Linked DNA regions of Homo sapiens: region 1 is linked to region 2. Evidence: fine-mapped expression QTL. Tissue or cell type: skeletal muscle. Region 2 holds a variant in brackets; the other region holds the start of a gene. All regions are shown on one strand. Distances are from middle to middle.

Region 1 (5,345 bases), 51 kb before region 2:
AGGTGGACACATGGATATTGATGTCAGTGCTGCACAGGGCACGGTACTGGACAAGTGTCACAAGTCCAGCTGGGCAAACTCCAGGATGCCAGGTCACAAGGGCTGTTTCCAGGAAGGGCTGACCCCTGATGTTTACATCCTTTTCCTCTGAAGCTCAGTGGAGCTCACCAGTCTCAGTTCACCTTGTAGGCCACTGAAGAAATTCCCAATTAGCACAGAGGAACGTCCAACCCTATGGGATTTGAGACTGGAGATTGCAGCCATCACATGATGGAAGCAGAATTAGACTCCAAAAACCTTGCCTTGAGTCTCGGCGTCTCGGCTCTGTCATTTGCCAGCCAAATGAGGCCAGGCAAGTCACAATCTCATGGAGTATTCACTTATCTACCTGTAAAGTAGGAATGTCTGACCTATTTCAGAAGATTGTTCTGAGGATAAAATGAGATGAGGCATTTGTCCTGTCCTCTTCAAATGCCATATTGTGATACTTTTCACTTAATTATTTTAAGGGCTTTAAAGACTCCATCTCCTTTACTTTTGACAACATCTCATGGCAGGGGATACTATTTTTATCCCCATTTTACAGAGAGAAAAACGGGACCCTGGATGAGTCAAGTGACTTCTTCAAGCTTATACCACTAGGTGGCAGACTCAGGATTTGAACCCTGCTGTACAGCTCCAGAGTCTGTCTGACCAAAGCACTCATTCCCAGTGGAGGAAAAGATAGACCATTCTTTTAGAAGTGCGCTTCATTTTTGTTTGGAGAACCACAAGTACTTTGTTATTGTTCCAGCATCCAGTCTGAGCTTTCTTGTCAGAGGGCAATGGGGAGAGGGGAAGTCGTTTAAGCAGGGAATGGTGAGTTCCGGTTTGCTGCTTAAAAGGATCACTGGCTTCTAAATAGCGAATAGACACACTGGCTGCCGTGTGGAGGTTGGATGGGGCCAGTGTGGAGAGAGGGCAAAACTGAATTCAGGAGTCAGGTGCGAAGCTGTTTCATGGAATCCAGGAGAGAAGCCCTGAGGGAGCAGAGCTAATCTTAGGACCTCTCAGACCAGATAGGGAGGGGGAGTGTGGCACTGATGCTTACAATCAAATTATAGAAAAGAATCCCTCCCTGCGAAGTAGCCCATACTGATGGAAGTAAGCACTAAAGGTTGTTCTCCACATAAGGAGATCGCTCTGGGTTTCATTTTGCGCCCCCCCGCCCCCTTCCCTGTGATTTCCTGGAGATGTCAGTCTCACTGAAGGCAGCTGAGCACCTTGCTCTGTTGAGGAGCCGGTGTGATGCAGCTGTGACCATTCCCAAGATGGCCTTCCGGGGATGGCCCTGGGCAGAGCCCCCCAACATCTGACTGAAGCTCCGCTGAGCTGTCCTCTCCAAGAGGGTCGGGCACCCGGGAGAGATCTCCTCTCCTTGTTCTACCCCATCTCTGGGATCTCTGCATCCTCAGACTGCCGCCTCCTCATCTATACTTTTCCTCCTTGTCTCCCATCAGGGGACCAGGGCCTCTCTGCCCGCCTCTTCCAGAGCTGCTGGGCTATAGAGAGGCTGCCCCTTGCCCTCCAGTTCAGAGGGGGAAGCTAGGATGCCTGAGTTCCAATCCTGGATCATACGGACCATAGGGCTGGGAGATGTGTGTGTGTGTGTGTGTGTGTGTGTGTGTGTGTGTGTGTGTGTGTGTGTGTGTAGGGGGTTACCGTACCCAAGAGGCCCTCCCCAGCGGCCAATGCCCAGCACACGCTTCACCTTGTCCCTTGCGACTTCTCCCGGGGCAGCCGCTGTGAGACTCAGGATGTCACCTCCCAGGGAGAGTCTTTGAAAGAAGTGGATGCTCCCATTCCCCACTCCAACGCCACAGCCCACCCTGTGCGGGTCATCCAGCGACTTCCCAGTTACTCTTCCCAGATGCAGCAGGGAGGCAGATCTCTCGGCGCCTTCGTGTCACAGCATTCTCATCTGATAAATGGGGCTAGGAGTATTTTCCCTGCCTACTTCACCAGGATGTTGGGACAATCACGAGCTTGAGCTAAGAAATATACATGCTTAAGGCATTATTATTAGCCAGGTGAGCCTTCTGGTGGGTGCCGGCTGCTGGGGCTCTCTCAGGCTTCCTCGGGCAGGAGTGCCGGGAGAAAGTTACTCTTTATCCCACTCTCTCCCGGGGCCTACTCCCGCGGAGCTCCTCGGCGGGGGGTTGACCACGAGTGGCTCCTCTTGCCCCTCTCCCATTGGCTTTCACCTGCCAGAGGGTCGGCTTCAACAGGCCTCTTGGCCCGTCAATCAGGCCCGCCGTGCTCCGCCCCGCCCCTCCCGGGGGTTTATAACGGGAATTCCCATGGCCCGGGCTCAGGCGTCCAACCTGCTGCCGCCTGGGCCCCGCCGAGCGGAGCTAGCGCCGCGCGCAGAGCACACGCTCGCGCTCCAGCTCCCCTCCTGCGCGGTTCATGACTGTGTCCCCTGACCGCAGCCTCTGCGAGCCCCCGCCGCAGGACCACGGCCCGCTCCCCGCCGCCGCGAGGGCCCCGAGCGAAGGAAGGAAGGGAGGCGCGCTGTGCGCCCCGCGGAGCCCGCGAACCCCGCTCGCTGCCGGCTGCCCAGCCTGGCTGGCACCATGCTGCCCGCGCGCTGCGCCCGCCTGCTCACGCCCCACTTGCTGCTGGTGTTGGTGCAGCTGTCCCCTGCTCGCGGCCACCGCACCACAGGCCCCAGGGTAAGTGCGCCCCCAGCTTTGCGCCCACCTGCGGAGGGAGGGGAGGTTGCTTCCCCCCTCATCCCTGAGGGAAGGAGGAGGGGGAAGAGAGATGTCAGAGACCTGTTGTCCTCTGTCTACTACCAGGTCCCCTGCGGGCTTGGTGAAGTTGCTGAAATATTTTTTTTCTCCCATTGGAGCCACCACCACTCTCCCTTTCTTGACCCACCATCCCTCCCCTGTCCCCGAACTGTCACTGGTGGGTTTTCTTTCCCAATCTCTTCTCTCCTGCATTTTGCTCAAGACCCTCAGAGGTGCCTCCTGCGTCGGAGAGAAGCTCGCTCTCCGCTCATGCAGGGCTTCCCTGTGGTCTCACGCTGGCGCCCGGTCCAGCGCGCTGGAGTTGTTGGCAGGCGGCGGGGGTTGGGACGGGGGCGGGTGCAGCTCTGCCTGGAGAGTTTTAGGTTACCCGCGAGCCACACAAGGACCTTGTGTTGTTGTTTTAAAAAGCGATCACTGCTCGTAAAACCCACAGCAGATAATTTTAATGTCACCTCCTGCCGGGCAGGCACTGGAAGAGGGTCAGAGGTGGGGTACTGTAAAGAGGTGGGAGGGGAGAGTTGCGCAATGTTCAGGGGTCTCTCCCCCTGGGTTCAGTGCTGGGAGGTTGAATTACTCGTTGAACCTTGGTCTGATTGGAGTTTCTGAACGACATGAAACCTGCCAATTCTGTGCACAGGACAGATTGTCCAGGGCATTGTAAAATCTCCTGGAACCGACAGTATTGTGTTCATTTCTGGTCTAGATTATCCCCGCAACACCCCCCACCAATTGGTCTAATAAAGAATTTCACTGCCTTGAAACATGTACTATTAAACGACCTAGTGGTTCTTTTGACCAAACTTAATCCAGGCAATCTCTGGCCAAGCATCAGTTTATGTCAGGGCAATTGACTCTTAACTGGCAGCCTGAGAGTCCATGTGAAAGTAGCTAGGATCTTTGTGAAAACAAGGTTGGCTCAACCAACTCGTGCTTTCTTTCTTGAACATCCTTGGGCCTGGCCCTTTACCACCTGTTCAGATTGCAGGTTGTTTATTCATAGCTTTTACTATATGAGAATCATCTTTATAGCTGTCGTGTGGAGAAAAAGTCTTGCAATGCTTGACAAGTCTTAATGACTGCCCAGATGCTGGGTTGATTACATCCAAGCCCAGGTATCACTGTGAGATCAGATTTGCAGCCATTTAGGAAAGAAAAGTGTTTGTCCCCGTGTTGGGCCAGCCCTTGCTTTTATGACCAGATGTGCAACAGCAGCAGTTAAAGTGTGGCAGATTAGATCCAGGGCGTGTCATAAATCCTCGACAGCAGGCATTCCCAAAGCTGGGGCAAGTAAGGGCTCCAGGAGTGACTTTTATGGATGCAGATGAGGATGCCTTTTAAATGAAGCTGCTTGGTTTGATATTAGGACTCAGAGCTCTTAAACTCTGAGGTCAGGCGAGCCATGCGTTCCCTCCAATAATTAGGAACAGTCAAGACAGAGATGCAGACCAGAGCACCCCGACTGAAATCTGGATGGCCGCCCACAGGAGGGTCGAAAGGAGAGAGGCCCTGAGACAAATGGTGGGGGGCTCGTTTGTTTGCTGCTGGGCTTGTCTAGAGTCTCAAGCCATATGGCTCTCCTTCCTGGCCTCCTGGAATCAGAGGAAGCAACCTTTAGGGGAAAGCTAGGGACTTGAGGGGAAATCAGGCACCGTGGTTAGGTTCCTTCCAGCTCCTCTAGTTTATTAATTTGATAGAAGTGATGGAACGTAAGCAGGAATTGTAAATAGGCTGGTGTATGTCCAAGCTGCTTCACACTCTCTCTCTCCTTCTTTCTTTTTTTCCCTCTTTCTCTCTCTCACTCAAATACATACATGCACAAACACACACACACATGTGCACACACATCTTGGTGTGTTTAGAAAGTACCAAGGAGAAGGTGCTGTCTCGAGCATGTGGTTACCTGGTTGTGTTTATAGATAACAATAAGAGCTACCACTTATGAACATCTGGGCTGGGCACTTTACATGATCTCTTACTCGAACGAGAACAAGAAGTTGGGTCTTTTAAAAGCCATTTTACAGATGACAAAGTGAGACTCAGGGTGGCCAATCGACTTGCCTGAGCTTCCAGTTTATATGGATTGAAAAGTTGTGTGCTCTCCCCACCACCAGGCAGCTATAGTGAGTGTTCATCCGAGTGATGCTGTTTCTGTTAAAGAAAGAGATGGCTCGATGAGAAATACAGAACCCGGATACATCAGGGGAGTCTGCAGAGAAATTGTTAATATTTTTTTGGTGTCTGTATCACTTAAGGCAAATGACTGAATTTCAACCTATCCCCAAAGACTCCAGTTCTTTTCTATGGCTTATTGGGGGCCTCAAAAGTGTAGCTCTGGTTGTTGAGAGCGGCGTCATCCGAGGAGCAGAAACATCTGGCTTGTTGCATTATTCCCTGTGGGCGCTCCTAAGTCTCTTCTGTTAATCTTTTGAGTGACAGAGGCTTAAGGATTGGCATCTTTTCCAGCTGGCTTTCTAGGAAACCAAGAGCATGCCCTTTCAGTTTAACTTTATCTGGCTCACTAATTGAGCTCCCCCGAGGCCTAGACCCCAG
Region 2 (5,366 bases):
GAGCCAAGATTGCGCCACTGCACTCCAGCTTGGACGACAGAGTCAGATTCCATCTCAACCACCACAACAAAAAGGTGGTAGGAGGGAAACTTCCGAGGAGGGGCAGGATTGCTTGGGGGTGGAGACACTTCTCCAGCCATTGCTCTGGTTTTCTGAAGGGAGGCTAGCAGGGCCTGGTGCTAGTACTTGACTGCTCACTTCTGAACCAAGTACTTGGCAGGACTGAGCATTCCGCAGGGACTTTCAGGTCACCTCCTCCAGGGGTAATGGATCCGAGTTCCTTTGTGTCCTGTAACTTGAAGCTAAGAGGGACCCCTTGAGGAAGAATAAACAGAGGGGTGAAGGGGTCAGTGCAGGGAAGAGAAGGCAGTGGGGAACTGGGCAAGTAGGGAAAGGAGGGATGCTGGGCACGATGCAGTGCGATTCCTGCCAAAGAGAAAAGGTGCTTTGAATGAAGTCCAGGAAGCTTCACATCTGAGGCCCAGTGAGGAGAAGGGACTTGCCCAAGGCCAGGCCTGGAGGAGGATCTGTGTATCTGAATCTTCAGGCTGGCACCCAGATGGCTGATGCTGGTCACTGGCTTGCCAGGCTGGAAAGCAGGAGGTTGGGCTTACCTTGAGTCAGCCCTCCTCCTCCAGGAAGCAGGCAGACTTCCTCAGCTATGCCGGGTCTGTGTGCAGCTCTGATTTATTTCGAGATTTTCCTTGTCTGAATCAGAGATGGTTTTTCTTGGCAAATTGCGACTTTTTCAGAAGGCAAAAATGCAGTCTCCTCGTAGTCTGGGTCAGCGTAATCCCCTGTTTGTTTATCCAGGCTCAGTGTGTTTGAGGCTAGAGCCAGAGCCAGCCAGGGGTGAGGGTCCGACCCAGCCCAGACAGCTTTATAGCTGGATTTGCAAACTCCAGCGAGGTTCCAGCTCTGGATCTTCCTGATCCTTGGTGTGGTGTGGCTGGGTGCCTTGGGGTTTCTATGTGCACTACTTTAGAGGTGCTCATTGGGGGGGGGGTCCCTTTTCTGCTTCCCAGGACTTTATTTCAGAGTACAAGTGAAACAAGAGCCTGCTTCACATATCAATTTGGGAGGAAAGTCTAGATTAATGGAGAATTCTTTGAACTCCATTTTGCCTAATTAATGTACCCATCTGAGTAGAGTTATTAATATTATATATCTTCAAAGCCTGAATAGTTAAAGCATGCGTATATTAAATATAATGCTTCCTCTGCTTATGTATGTTCTTATTTTCTACACTTGTCATAAATTTAACAGTTGGGGTCAAGCCCCCAACTCTTAGGTGGTGTTGATGCTGGGATATTGGACAGGGAAAGATACCTTTCTGGAGAAGGAATGACCATCTGGAAGTCTCTGTACACTGGAGTGAAACTCTCTGGAGGGTCCTGATCCCTCAGGAAGGTCTCTTCCAGGAGCTGGGAGTCTCCCCGGGGTTGCAAGCTTGCAAGCTGCATAGGAAGAGACCTTCTTGAGGTGGCATCTCATGTCTTTATAGTGACTGTCCAGCATCTGCCACATCAGAGATCCCTGGAGGCTCTATGCTCGCCCATTATGGAAGGAAGAGGGAGGAGGCACCCCATTTGCTGAAGCCTTTCCCTTCCATTCCCTACTCCATCTGCCTCCCCCAAACAATTTCAGTCTGAGGGCTGTGGAAGAGTCCTAATAAACATAGCTACCATTTATTGAGTATTTACAGTGTGCCAGGCTACAAGCTTTACATGCATCATCTCACTATTCCTCATGACCAATCCATGGAATGAGCATTCTTATTTTACAGATGAAGAAGCTGAGGCTCAGAGAGGTTAAGTGACTTGCCTAAGGTCATGCGGCAAGTAAGTCATAGAGCTGGGATTTGAAATCCTGGTCTGTCTGATTCTAAACGCCATACTCTTAACTACTGTGCTACGTTGGCCACAGAGATGCCTGAGAAACCGAGTGCTTTCTAAGACATTGGGGTGTTTTAGAGACATGTCCTGGAAGCTGTGTGAGAGGGAAGCCTGGGGCTCAGGGAAGCCAGAGTATTGAATCTTGGAGGCTTCTTTGGGAATCCAAGCCCCTGGAGAAGAAGGGAGGGATATGATCTCCCGGGGGAAAAGTACAACTCAATAAAGAGCTTCTTGGTTCTGGATTAAACACAGGTGGAACTGCTTCTTACTGGTAATTGGGAGTTTGGCCAGATTGTGGGGCTTGTTTCTTGGTCGGACAGGGAAGGAGGCAGCCCCAGAGGCGTTAGGCTGACGAAGGAAAAGAGAGGCCTTCTTACTCAGAAACCTCTTCCTGGTGTCTGGGCCAAGCTAGGATCAGTCTCTTTTCTGGAGATGCAAGTAGGGTCTGGTACAGGACTTGAGAGTTCGGCCCCACATCTGTGGTGACCCTCCCCTAGGGAGGCAGAGACGTGGCTGGGGGAGCAGCCCCAACCCCTGTATCCACTTCAGAGATGGGCTGTGGAATCCACATGTGCTTCTGCTGCTTGGCTTCTGGATCATTCCTGATTCTGTTCCCACCTCTGCCCTCACCCCTTTCATCCCCAGTGACTGTACCCCTGACAGCACCCTTCCCACTCCCCTGACAGCACCCTTCTCACCCCCCTGACAGCACCCTTCCCACCTCTGCACCTCTCCAGCCAGTTACCGAGGGACCTCACTGCCCATCCCACCACACTGCCCGTCCCAGAAGGCCGTCAGCTGCCGGATCACCTCACTTGAGAGGTCTGTAGGGGCACTTGCGATGTGCCAAAAACATTGCTCAGGTTGGATGGATGTGCTCTTGGCATGAGGGTGAGCAGAAACCGAGTCCTCTTTTGTGCAACATTATGTTTAAATTGCTTGAACCAAACTGTGGCTTTGGGGCAGGGCTGTTTTTCCCCTTAGCAGCTGACTGGGTGCAGAGGAACAACACCGAGTCAGTTCCAGCCACTTTTTCTGGGTAAGTGATGGCAGCCAGGTCACTGGGCTGGGGTTTTAGGAGTAGGAGGTCTGAGGAAGGGCCCCTGGGTATGCAAGAGAAAGGGTCAGGAAATGGGAGTTCCTGGGCCTCAGGGCTTAGGCCTCAGAAAAGCTCTGTCAAGGGAGGACCTTGAGAGCCTGGCCAGCTAGTGGCTTCTGAAGCCGGCTTCCCAGGCAAGGACACTC[G/A]CACCCCAGTGCCTGATGCAGCTCTTGGCCTGGAGCTGGGAATGCAGGGGGTGACCTGATTCCATTGCATTTGCTGAAGTAGGCTGGAACCAGAGATGGCGACAGCTGCTTCCAGAATCTTCCTCTAAACCATCTCCTGTGTTGATTCTTCTTTTCCATCTCCACTGCCACAGTGTAGCCCGGGCTGCTGTCAACACCTCATGCTTGCATTTGTGCCAGTGCCTCTTAACTGTCCATTTTGCATTTATTCTCTTTCCCCTTCACTCTGTTCTGCCCTCTGTGGCCAGAACAAGCAGCTGAAAACATCAGTTTTATGGAGTGACTTTCCTACCCAAGCTTCCACGGGTTCTTTCTGGGCCACAGAACTGAGGCTCGGCTGTCTTGAGGGAGCCATCCCACCTTCACACAGACATCTGGCAGCAGCCACATGGGCGTCTCCTCTGTCTCCTGCGCACGCATGGCCGTTTTATTCAGGGTGCTCTCCTCTGCCTGACATGCCTTTCCTCGTCTCAGCCATGAGGCCAAATGTTATTTATCCTTCAAGGGGCAGCCTGAGTCCCGCTCCCTCCGGGCAGTCTTCCCAGCTGCCCCAACTCCTCCTTCTCCAAGACCTTCAGCTCCACTCGCTGTCGTCCTCTGGACAATTCCATGACAGGCGGGCAGTGTATAGCTCTTCCTTGTTTGTTGGTCTTTTCTCTTGACCCAGAGCATTGGCTTTTGGAGGAAGGAGCCAGATCATGTTCTTTGGGAGCTGACAGCAGGCGCTGGGTCAAGCCTCTAATGAGCACTTAAGAAATAATTGTTGAATTGATCAACAGGAAATAAGCTTAGATTGCAGCACAAGGGATTTAGGTTGGATTTAAGGAAGGATTTCTAGAGAGCCATTAGATGTTTAGAAAGGATGGCTGAGGGAGACTATGGCAGTACCAGGTCTTACCACAATTATGAAAAATAAGAGAAGATTCTCCTGAAAATCAGGGGATGTGGCGGTGGCAGCTGTCAAGGTTTACATGGAGAAAGGTGGGGAAGGAGAGAAAGAAATGGCCACGCTTTAGTGTCCAGTTAAAGGACTACAGACTTTTGGCTGGAATCTGCCTTTCTACTTCTGATTCTTGTCATTAGCTGAGGGCTTTCTTCACTTTTCCCTCCTGTGACGCAGCTTGAGTCAAGCTATACCTCAAGGCGTGGGATGAGAAGTGGAGCAGGTGTCGCGCAGGGAGCGGGGCACTGACCTCACCAGGGCCAAAGCCATGGAGCATCCGCCTGTTCTGGCAGTCCAAAGAGTGGCTTTGCCATCCCGTTCCTCAGAACCCGAGCTGTTCCTCAACCCTCCAACAGGTGCGTGGTGGGTTGTATGGTGAAGGCATGCTCAAGGGAACGGGAACACCCTTCTTCACCACTACCCTCTGTGTTTCGCAAAACACGAGTCCACCAGCGGGGTGCTTTGTTTTGCCTGCAGATGTGTGAAGCCACAGGCACAGCCCCTGAACAGGAACAGCTTCCTGAAGGGCTCAGGAGGGGGTCAGTGGCTTTATAGTAAACTTGCTGTTTTGCTGTAGAATGCACGACTATGTTACAGGTGATGAGCTTCCTCTGCTGCGCTGGGGCCTTCCGGGACTTTACTACCACGCCACCCTCAGCCCCACATGCCTCCTCCTGTCCCTGGGGCTGGGGGTGTGCTGAGTGAAAGGAGTGGTAGAAGTGAGGAACAAAGCCGCCACAAAGGCATCAGGAGGAATGGGGGCAGTGGGAGCTGGAGGAACCTTTCGGTGCCATTTGGGCTTCAGATGCAGCATTGTTCATACAGGTGCAGCCCTCTCCTCCGGCTCTCAAAGGCCGGATTAGGCACATTCAGTCTTTGTTCTGATATCACAGCCGGCCTCTGCTCTATTCATTCAAAGGCGGCTTTGTGGTCCTGGGGACCGACCCCTGTGCTTTGGGAGCCCCTGTGCCGGAAGATGGAGAGACACTGGCAGGGCAGTGCGGCTTTTTCCTGGTGACCACTTACAGGAGCTGTGATGGAGTGGGCGGGGGGTGCAGAGCAAAGGCAGCTCTGGCAGGGCTGGAAGTATTTTGGGGACGCTGGCAGCAGTTCTTCTGTCACCTTCTGTAAGCCGATGAGACATTCTGAGCAATTCTGACGGAAGCTGTGCAAGACTACACCAACCTAGGGCAGTAGTTTTAAAATTTCTTGAAGACATGGAACTCTTCTTACACCAAATCAGA

Evidence for each region.
Region 1: it holds the start of SMOC1, and the variant in region 2 is fine-mapped to the expression of SMOC1 in skeletal muscle (FUSION, PIP 0.95).

What each region holds. Positions count from the first base shown.
Region 1 is chr14:69,877,064-69,882,408 of GRCh38, forward strand. It overlaps SMOC1 (SPARC related modular calcium binding 1), which reads left to right and starts at 2,353. Exons shown (of 12, transcript NM_001034852.3): 1 at 2,353-2,714. The coding sequence starts at 2,616. RefSeq lists a silencer at 2,451-2,540.
Region 2 is chr14:69,927,620-69,932,985 of GRCh38, forward strand. The region is part of intron 1 of SMOC1 (SPARC related modular calcium binding 1); the gene reads left to right. Among named protein-coding and RNA genes, the nearest start is that of SNORD169, 48 kb to the right of the region's middle. The variant G/A (reference allele first, on the strand shown) is at 3,141.